Linked DNA regions of Homo sapiens: region 1 is linked to region 2. Evidence: fine-mapped expression QTL. Tissue or cell type: pancreas. Region 2 holds a variant in brackets; the other region holds the start of a gene. All regions are shown on one strand. Distances are from middle to middle.

Region 1 (5,288 bases), 190 kb before region 2:
AATAAAGAGCCACAAAGTTATGTGAGTTATTATTTTATCCTTAATATTGCTCCTGGAGTCTGTAGCAGGTCAGCATCAGAGTTCAGAGATCAGGAACATGGCAACATGCCCAGAACCAAGATGAAAAGAAAAGCCAATAGGCCCCATTTCATGAATATTTGCCTTGAGGAGTCCCTGAAGATGTCCCTAGAAGTTAACTTCTGTTTTTATGTGGAGACAATTAGAAGCTAAGTTTCAGATTCCCCAATGCCTGCGTAAGTAGCTCTAATTACTTAGCAGAGCATTGTATGTTTCCCCCCTTCAAACCACCTGACACAAAAATGAAGTAAAACAGGTTCTATATTTATAGATATAACTAAGCCACACAATAGGATTGTGGGGTTTAGACCAAATCATCTAGGTCACATCAGGGTTATAAAGATTAAATGATATGTTTCACACAAGAACTATTCTGCTTAGGGATGGAGGCTTGTTGCTAATTAGCATAATTGCCTCGTGACTTGCGGAAACTATGTCAGCGTTTTGTTTTGTTTTTGTGTGCTTTTTCAGAGGGAGACTCATCTGGTGGTGTTAAATACTATATCTATTTAAAATTAATCACATGCCTTTCCTAACAACACGGATCATGCTAGTTGCATCTATCTTTACAACAGGGATTTCTGAAGCAAATGAGAGGTGTCATTATGTAATGGAATTAAAAGAGAAGATTAGGAGTTAGGCTGGCTGGGTTTGCACTTGCCCTCACTGGCTGTGTGACCTTGCGCTAGTCACTTGACCTTTCTGAGCTTCAATTCCTCATTTGAATAATGGAGATAATCTGACCTATATACCCCTGGGTTTTGTAGTCAGGAAATAATGGATCATTGTACATATGAAAAGTCTTTACAACTATCAATGGCAAGACATCTGTCAGTTATTCTAATATTCATGGTATAGAAAACTGTGAAATACAGAGTCCTTACGTCTATTCTCCAAAAAAGTTCACTTCTCTTTAAAAGCTTTTAGCAAACCACAATCCAGGTAATTAAAAAGGAAATATTAAAATTTTGTTCTCAGGTTGTCTGACATTTCACGGTTCAGCAATGTGACATCTCTCACAGGCAGAATAGCATCTTCGGACAAGTTTTCTATTAAAAATATGCTTTATAGAAGAAAATATTTTACGGACCTAGAAGACAGCTGTCGATGAAATTTGCTCAGTTTAGCAAACAGCAAGGACTGTGTTTGTGTTTAGAGAAAAGTAGGTCGAGCCTAGTTTATCTCCCTGGGGTTCTAGACTCCTTTCCACGTTGTATCTCAAGCTCTAATAGCTGGAAAGCTACTTTCTTTAACCTTTAATACACACTTGCTAGTAAACTTGCTAGAAGCATGAAGATAATACAGACTGCGAATCAGCCCTTCTAAGAGACAATCACGACTCCTTCCTTGCAAGCTTCCGCCCTGATAATTCTGCAACCTTCCCACCTTCTATACGCCCCGCGGTGCGAGGCCCCTCGGCCTGCAGGTGGCCAGAGGCAAGCAGGAGTCAGATCCCCCACCTACCGCGGCCCGGCCTGGGCCCTAGCGCTGGGTGCGGCGGAGCCCCGGGCTCCTGCGGGGACGAGCGTGGTCCCGGGACGCGCGGTGCAGCCAGGTGCGCCGGCGGCAGTGGCAGCCGCTGAGCGCCGCGTCGCACGTGGCAACAGGTGCAGCGCTGTCCCGGGCTGGCGCCGGGGGGCGTGGGGCGCGTCCGCACTTAGTCCGGGAGCGCGCGGAGCGTCGGGATTGGGACCCGAGAGCGGGAGCGGAGAGCGGGAGCGCCCGAGCGGAGTCCAGCGCCCCGAGGTACGGCCTCGCACGTCATTCAGGTTCCCCGAGGGCCGTCCCCTGGGACGGCGGCTGGCCTTGGTCTCCCGCAGCGAGCCGCTGGAGTGGAGCCTTCGGAAGGAGCCGCCCCGGGTTGGGGCGGGAGGCCCGAGTTCGGCTATTTACAAGTTTCCCGAACTCCCCGCCCTGCTCCACCCCCTGGCGGCCCCGGAGGCGGGGAGGCGGGGAGGCCGGGGCTCCGGGTCCCGCCTGGTAGCCGCCGCAGGCGTGGGGTGGTGCCGCGCCGCGCGCCCCCAGGTGCAGACGCCGCCCCCGAGACCTCCGGGGCGGGTTCTCGGCGACCCCGCCAGTGGTGCAAAGGGCGCCAGCCCTCCCCGCCTCTGCGTCTTTGCTCCCGGAGCGCTTGAAGGAGCTGCGGGTAAGTGCGCGCTGGAATCTGTTCCCGCTGCCCGGCGGCCGGGGTGGGGAGGGGACAGGCGAGCGCGCCGCCCAGGGTGACGGGACCGGTCCTCGGGGAGGGGAGGGGGCGTTCCAGGGGCCTGGGGGCCGAAGCTGAGGGCTAAAGGGGGCGGCAGCGCCGGCGGAGCGGAGGCGGGTCTCACGTGGGCCAGCGCAGAGCCTGCGGAAGGGACGGATGCGGATCTCGTCGCTGTCACCTTGAAAGTGACCGAGGGGCTTGACTGTGGACTCCTTACGCCGCCCACCCGGGCCCGGCGGTCCCAGCCTTCTCGCAGGGCCCCTTCTCAGCAGAAGCAAGCGGGGCCGAGAAAGCGGGTGGAATAGGGTTGCTGCAGGTCCCAAAGACCCCTCGTGGCGCCTCGCTACTTTCTGCAGCTTGTTTGCACTTTTTCACGCTCTAGAAAAATCTCATCTTAATTAAGGTGACCTTATTGACTACTCTATAGTGCTTAGTGGACTTAGGTGTTCACTGAGGAACGTTTTTGTTCTTTTTTGAAGACGTACTCCTTTCTACCAAGTTGTTTGTTGATTTTTGACTTGGAGTAATTTGGGACTAGGAAGGAAGAGGTTAATTCATTTAGCCTGCGTAGTTACACATACTCTGTTAAATACTGTTTGTTTGAAGTAGTCAGTGTTCTAAGAAAGGAAATCCAGTGTGTTTTGTTTGTTTCAATGAAACCAAAGTCTTAGGCAAAACGGTGCGTGGAAGCTTTCAAGTTTTGCCAGGTGCAGGTGATCGAAAGTCAATCATCACTAAATCACAGCGCTGGGGCTGGAGGGTGGGAGTAGGGGTGTTACCAGTGAATTTCAGGAGGAAGGGAGGCAATGCAGGAGGGAGGGGATTAAAAAAGAGAGTCATTGCTTCCTGGGAACCAGTGACCTCTTTAAGGAGGGTATATACAAGATAACAGTGCATGGACAACTTTAAAAGGAATTGCATAAACGGAATTGCAATTCTGTAGACAGTTTGCTTTTTCAGGGATGGTTAGGGCAGGAAATGATACACAACTTAAAATGGTGATGTCCTGTTAGTACAGTGCTTTACAGTGTAGAAAGTGCTGTTACAGATTTTTTTTTTTTCATAGGCAATATATTCCATTAGGAAAGCTATACAAAGAAAAGATTAGAACTACATGCTTATCCTTAAAACCAAAGCTAAAAAACCTTAGAAGTGGAATTTAGTTTAAAATAATATGTAGTTATTTATGTAACTTGCACCACGTTTTTTCACCTGTTCTTTTTAAAATCAGGTTTATGAAGAGAAAATAATTCTTGGTAAATCTGCTTGGTAGAAAATCATGCTTGGAACAAGACCTTTTAATTATGTCAATAAGTCAAGGTTACATTTTGGAGTATAATAGGATTATAAGATTCTAGATAATATCTTATATTTTTTGGAAACTAACCTGCAGTTATTACACTCAAGCATTTAAAAAGCCTGTTACTTAATAGCCCTGTTCTGTTAACCCTGTTTGTTTTGATTTCAAAAGTAATCCGTGCTTGCTGTATAAAAATAGGTAGATTGAGAAAAGTGAGTTAAGCAATTTCAGCAAAGATAATCACAGTTAATATTTAAGAAAATACTTGTTAATATATAGAAAAATTTTTTATAGTTATATAGTTTATCTAAATATACTATTGCGTGGAGGTTTTTTCCTGATTAATGTATCATGAAAAATTTTCCATGTCATGAAATCTTCAGAAATCTTAGTGGCTACTTAATATTACATTACATAGATGTATCAAACTGGTTTTCATTTATTTCCACTTACTAAATATACTTTTGCAACAAATACGTTTTTAAAACTTTATGTGCAGGGTTAATATCCTTAGTGCCCTTGAAATACAGTTGATGGTTGGAAGATCTCCTCATACATATTGACCATTTGCTTTCCAAAAAATGTTTAACCAAATTATGTTCCCACCAGCTCTCTGTGAGAATACTGGTGTTACCGTATTCTTGTCAACATGTAGAATCATCCTTAAAGGGAAAAAAAAAAAATTCTTCCCAGGTTTATAGGTGAACAGTGCTTTCTCTATATTTAAACTTCAATTTCTTTGATTACAGATGATTTGAACACCAAAGAAATCTAGTTGTTTTCCATTTTGAAATTTGATGTAGTGCCAGATTTTTCTCCTGGGATATTAGTATTTTTCCATTAATTCATAAGAGCCTTTTATGGATTGATAGTAAATCTTTGCCATTCATATTGCAGATACTTTTCCCATTTTATCTTTGCTTTATATATTTACAGTAGTTTTGACATACACAAATTTCTTTAATGTTGATAAATCTGTTGACTTTCTCAAAACAGAATTTTTAACACTTCTAAATCGTAGCTTCAGAACTATATGTGACTGTGGTAGAAGATTTAAAAAAAATTTTCCAGCCGGGTGCGGTGGCTCACGCCTCTAATCCCAGCACTTTGGGAAGCCAAGGCGGGCGGATCAGGAGGTCAGGGGTTCGAGACCAGCCTGGGCAACATGGTGAAACCCCGTCTCTACTAAAGATACAAAAAATTAGTCAATTGTGTTGGCATGGATCTGTAATCTCAGCTACTTGGGACGCTGAGGCAGGAGAAGCGCTTGAACCCGGGAGGTGGAGGTTGCAGTGAGCCGAGATCACTCCAGTGCACTCCAGCCTGGGCAACAGGGCAAAACTCCATCTTAAAAAAAAAAAATTCCCCAAATTCTAAATTAGAATCTTTTCAAATTCATTGCAAGAACTTCCATATCTTGGGTTAGAGACTGTTGCAAAACTAATTGCATTTGTTGATGAGAAGCCACTGGGCCTGGTATATACTATTAGGAACAACATCCTTTGAAATCAGAGCAGAAAGTTTTAAATCCCTAAGACTGAATGTTTTTCAGATCTGTTATTCTGTGATTATACAAAGTAGGCTCACACTCCATTTATTGTCAGTAATCTATTTGTAGTATCATTTTGCCAGATTCTTCTTTTTATAGTCATTATTGTGGTTTCATACGGACTTGTTGATGTCCAGACAAATGTACTGCATACG
Region 2 (5,288 bases):
CCCCGTGTATGTGTATGTGTGTGCATGGCTTCCAACACGCTCCCCTGGCCTTAACACACACAGAGTCTTGCTCCCATCAGTGGAGGACTGAAGCTTCCTGTATTTAGCCCAGGCTGCTCTCTCCTGGGGGTGGCCTAAGTCATGAGATGGCACAGAGGAGGGAGCTGACAGTCCTCAGATATAGGGACCGGTGCATCTTACTTGGGGCAGTGGCCAGTTAATAGTAGTGGGGTCCATTTCCTGTCTGCCCCGGTGAAGACTCTGCAAGCCAAGGGCAAGGGTGAGCCTTGGGTTACAAGATAATGATTCATTGGTATTATACCCACACATACTTAGTAAGTACAAAATAAATGGGAGGTGCTGGAGAGGACAGGAGGGATGCAATGATGTCTAGAGAAGTCCCTGCTCCCGAGTTCTCCTACACAACATGCCATGAGAACTCCGAGGAGAGTAACCAGCAAGAGCCTCTAGGCCAAGAGGGTCTTGGTACAAAGGAAGGATGTCAACATGCGCAAATCGAGGGCATGCAGTCCCAGGGAAGGAGGTCTCCAGAGAGAAGAAAAAAGGCAAGTTTGTGCAGAACAAAGCGATGTTATTCTGGACGACAAGTTGGCTGAAGACTGTGGTGAAAGGCATAAAATCATGAACTTGGGCCAGGCGCAAGTGGTTCATGCCTGTAATCCCAGCATTTTGGGAGGCCGAGGTGGGTGGATCACGACGTCAAGAGATCGAGACCATCCTGGCCAACATGGTGAAACCGCATCTCTATTGAAAATACAAAAATTAGCTGGGCGCGGTGGTGCATGCCTGTAGTCCCAGCTACTGGGGAGGCTGACGCAGGACAATCGCTTGAACCCGGGAGGCGGAGGTTGCAGTGAGCTGAGATTGCGGCACTGCACTCCGGCCTGGTGACAGAGCAAGGCTCCCTCTCAGAAATAAATAAATAAATAAATAAATAAATAAATAAATAAATAATAACAATAATAAAATAAAATCATGGACTTTGGAACCCTACTGACCAGATTCAAATCCCAGCTCCACCATGACCTTCAGAGTCCTTAGCTACAGCTCGTCTTCCACAGTCTGGCTTCACCTACTCTTCAGACTTGTAGTAACAATAATGATAGCTAATGCTTGTTGAGTGCAGGCACGCTGCCAAGCTCCGTAAACAAGTTCAGGACTTAGAACAGCATCTGCCACAGAGAAGTGCTCAATACATCTTGTTTATTCGTTTAGAGATAGGGTCTCGCTCTCTTGCCCAGGCTTTGAGTACAGTGGTGCAATCATAGCTCACTACAGCCTCAAACTCCTAGGCTTAAGGGATCCTCCCACCTTGGCCTCCTGAGTAGCTGGCATGTGCCACCACATCCGGCTAATTTTTTTACATTTTTTTGTAGAGACAGGGTCTTGCTGCGTCGCCCAGGCTAGTCTTGAATTCCTGGCCTCAAGCAATCTCCCACCACAGCCTCCCCAAGTGCTGGGATTACAGGCATGAGCCACCACACCCAGACTCGAAACACTTTAGAAATTGTCATTATTATGGTCCCCCTGGTTCTCACAGCTACATTAAGTTGGAGGTACTATTTTTCCCCTTTTACTGCTTGAGGGCACCGAAACATAGAGAAGCAACTTGTCCAAGTTACTCAGCTATTGAGTGGCAGAGCATCTAATCTAGTGTCACACAGACTCAGGTTACAAACACTTATAAATTAAGAGGGCATGGATTTTCATCCTACAGAAATGAAATGAAATGAAGCAATTTTGACTGAGTGATGGCACCTCTAACAGCTTGTAAAATCTGCTAAGTATAGCTATGCACACACACACACTCCCAAATCACAAACAAAAATATGAGAGATCCAGTTAAATGAGCTCAGAATTTTAAATTCCATAGTAGAAACGGTACACTGTTTTCTATTAAGTCAACACTAAACCATCCGGTAATTAATTAAAGGAAACAAGAATGGGACACCCATCAGTTATTAAGCATCGACTTCATAACTGGCAATACGGAAGAGACACTTTACTTTTTCTCAATCCCGTGAGATGGCAATGATGAGACTTATAACAATAACTGAAACTTAAGCAGTGTTTAATATGTGCTAAGCAATGCTGTAAGCCCTTTACCCATTTTGACTCATTTGATCCTCATGAAGCCCTGAGAGATAAGTGCTATTATTAACCCCACGTGGCAGGTGAACAAACAGGCTGGAGAGGTTAGGTAACTTTCCCAAGGCTACACAGGAAGTGTTGGAGCTGCCAGAGAAGAATTTGAAGCTCAGTTCAAACAACTTTCCCAGGGTGCCTCAGGTAGATAAACAAAGATTTTCTGCTTTGAACGCTCTGTGCTGCCTCTGTTGGAAAAAGAGAGACCCCCATCTCTACAAAAATGTTAAAAATTAGCTGGATGTCACGATGCCAGCCTATAGTCCCAGCTACTTGGGAGGCTGAGGTGGGATGATCACTTGAGCCTGGGAGCTGGAGGCTGCAGTGACCTAGGATTGTGCCACTACACTCCAGCCTGGGCAACAGAGGGAGACCTTGTCTCTAAACAAGTTTACAAAATTAAAACATAAATATCCTCCTTATTCTACATTCATGTGAAAAACTGTTAGGCCTCTACCACATGCAAGGAACTGTGCCAAGAATCAAGAGCGATAAAGACTCGTGGGTATTTGCTTGTCTGTGTTTCAAGTGTTTACACAGGGCCTGTATTTCCTGTAAGTCTCCGTCTCAGAACGTGTCAGAGAAGAATGGCTGAATGATATGCAGGAAACGTGCCATATGAACAGAGTACAGATCCTGGGAAACAGAC[A/G]GCTGGGTAAAACATACTGAAACTGTCACTGTTTATGTTTCTTTAAAAAAGAAAGAAAAAATATGCATGATGATCTCAGGGAAACAAATATGCAAACTAAAGGACTTCAAAGTGAATATAGTTCTTGTATCAGAAATTAGGCTGGAATAGCTCTATTCCTCTATCATCTATCAATCTATCTATTACGAATCAATCTATCATTTATCAGCCTATCATCTACTGATCTATCATCTATCAATCTATCATCTGTCAATCTGTCTGTTGCCCATCTACTATCTATCTATCATCTATCTCCACATTTGCATACTATCCAAGGAACTATTCAAAATCCTTGCAATGTGATACAATATTTCCACCTCAACAACCAGTTACGTTGTGAAATGTGGCTCAGGTCTCTCTACTGCAATCACTTATGCCAGATTCCTCTGTATTATTATCTTATTATTATTTTTAAGGTAGCTTTTCTTTTTTGAGATGGGGTCTCACTCTGTTACCCAGGCTGGAGGGCAGTGGTGTGACCTCCGTGGGGTTCACACCATCCTCCCACCTCAGCCTTCTGAGTAGCTTGGACTACAAGTGCACACTACCATGCCTGGCTAATTTTAGCATTTTTCTGTAGAGACAGGGGCTTCCTACGTTGCCCAGGCTGGCATCGAACTCCTGAGCTTGAGCAATCCACCTGCCTCGGCCTCCCAAAGTGCTGGGATTACAGGCATGAGCCACTGCGCCTGGGCTTCTCTGGATTATTGAAAAAGAAGTCACCCTAAGCACTTCCCCACTACTTCACGGGAGACTGCACACGCTACATCCCTCCAGCCCTGCCGGCATCACTCTCACCCCTGCAGGTCCTATTCTTGGCACTGCCTGGACTCTGCCCGCCATACTGCGAAGTCCCCCTTCCCTTTTCATTTCCCCTCTGTCACCTGCTGGGGTCATCATTCTTTTTGACCCTCTGTCCAGCATATCCAGGTCCTTTACAAAGGAAAAGCTCCTCTTCCTCCTTCAGATATTCTCTAGACTCTGAGAAAATGAGAAGCGTATATCCCCTTGACACCACAAACCAAAACCATACCTGACACACCAGCGATCCTCCCAACAGAAAATCCCCTCCAACCACCTGGAACAAAGGCCTTAAAATACGCCCAACAATTCCACCCAGAGGAAGAGATCCTTGCTACCTAGATGTTAGCTACCGCAATGACAGTGATCGTAAAAAATGGGGCATGATCTAAGAGATGGAGAGACCCAAGAGATTTAGCTAAACCTACTACAGTATTACAGCCATAACTCACAAAAAATATTCATGGTAGATTAGGTGCAAAGTTAATCATGAAAGAGTTTGAATATTTTGATAATTTTACACATAAAAATATTCACAATAGATTACGGGAAAAGTTAATCATAAAAGAGATAGAATATTTTGATAACTTTACACATAAAAAATATTCACAACAGATTAGGGGGAAAGTTAGTCATTAAAGAGTTTGCAGATTTTGATACCTTTTTTATACTAAATACAAAACTAGAAGATTCAACATTACTGTGTTAACCACGTTTCTTGGGGTTTTCAGTGATCTTTCTCCTTTTTGCTTATTTATAGTTTTTAAGTTTCTAGATCAAATAAGTATGTGTTATTTTATAATAAGAAAAGAAAAACTGGGCCAGGTGTGGTGGCTCACATCTGTAATCCCAGCACTTTGGGAGGCCGAGGTAGGTGGATCACCTGAGGTCAGGAGTTTGAGACCAGCCTGGCCAATATGGTGAAACCACATATCTACTAAAAATGCAAAAATTACCCGGGTATGGTGGCAGGTGCTTGTAATCTCAGCTACTCAGAAGGCTGAGGCAGGAGAATAGCTTGAACCCGGGAGGCAGAGGTGCAGTGAGCTGAGATCATGCCACTGCACTATGGCCTGGGCAACAGAGTGAGACACTGTCTCAAAAAAAGAAAAGAGAGGAGAAGAGAGGAGAAGGAAGAAGGAAGAGGGAAGAGAGAAAAGAAAAGAAAAGCTATAATAAAAGCAAAACAAGTAAAACTGCTTATAAAGTGTGAAACAGATACTGCATAAATGCGTAAGCACAAGGGCTCATGTGTATTTAAATACCTGGAGGTTAGTTTTACAAAGTGTTGCCTTTTTAAAATGTGAATTTCCAACAGGCAGGGCCACCAAGAATTCCTTTAGAGGCCTAAAACTACTGTGTATTATTTTGTTCTGATTAATGGAAACACTGCCAACTGGAGTATAACACATCATTTGGAGTGCAGCATGGCTGTTTCTTAGCCATTCTGCTCCCCTGCCTGTGTGGACCTGCCGAGGCTGTGCCACCTCCCCTGGAGTTTAACCCAGGCTCCCAGATCTTAGCAAGCCTTCCTTCTTACTTGGTTCCCACTCTCGGCATTTCTAGTTCTTTCCACCGAGCTGCAACTCCACCTGTCACCCAGGCTGCTATCACCATTGACTCTCTCATTTCT

Which allele goes with the higher level. Alleles are on the strand shown, and positions count from the first base shown. SD is a standard deviation of normalised expression in the study named.
For the expression in pancreas of the gene that starts at base 2,191 in region 1, A is the high allele of the variant in region 2 and G is the other (small effect, 0.32 SD a copy in GTEx).

The links. PIP is the estimated chance that this variant, and not a neighbour inherited with it, causes the effect.
Region 1: MTUS1 starts here. The variant in region 2 is fine-mapped to the expression of MTUS1 in pancreas (GTEx, PIP above 0.99).

The regions. Positions count from the first base shown.
Region 1 is chr8:17,797,997-17,803,284 of GRCh38, reverse strand. It overlaps MTUS1 (microtubule associated scaffold protein 1), which reads left to right and starts at 2,191. Exons shown (of 15, transcript NM_001363059.2): 1 at 2,191-2,224. It overlaps MTUS1-DT (MTUS1 divergent transcript), which reads right to left and starts at 1,943. Exons shown (of 3, transcript NR_186403.1): 1 at 1,543-1,943. RefSeq lists silencers at 1,588-1,777, 1,818-1,877, 1,958-2,077.
Region 2 is chr8:17,611,857-17,617,144 of GRCh38, reverse strand. All of the region lies in intron 2 of PDGFRL (platelet derived growth factor receptor like), which reads right to left. Among named protein-coding and RNA genes, the nearest start is that of PDGFRL, 37 kb to the right of the region's middle. The variant A/G (reference allele first, on the strand shown) is at 2,816.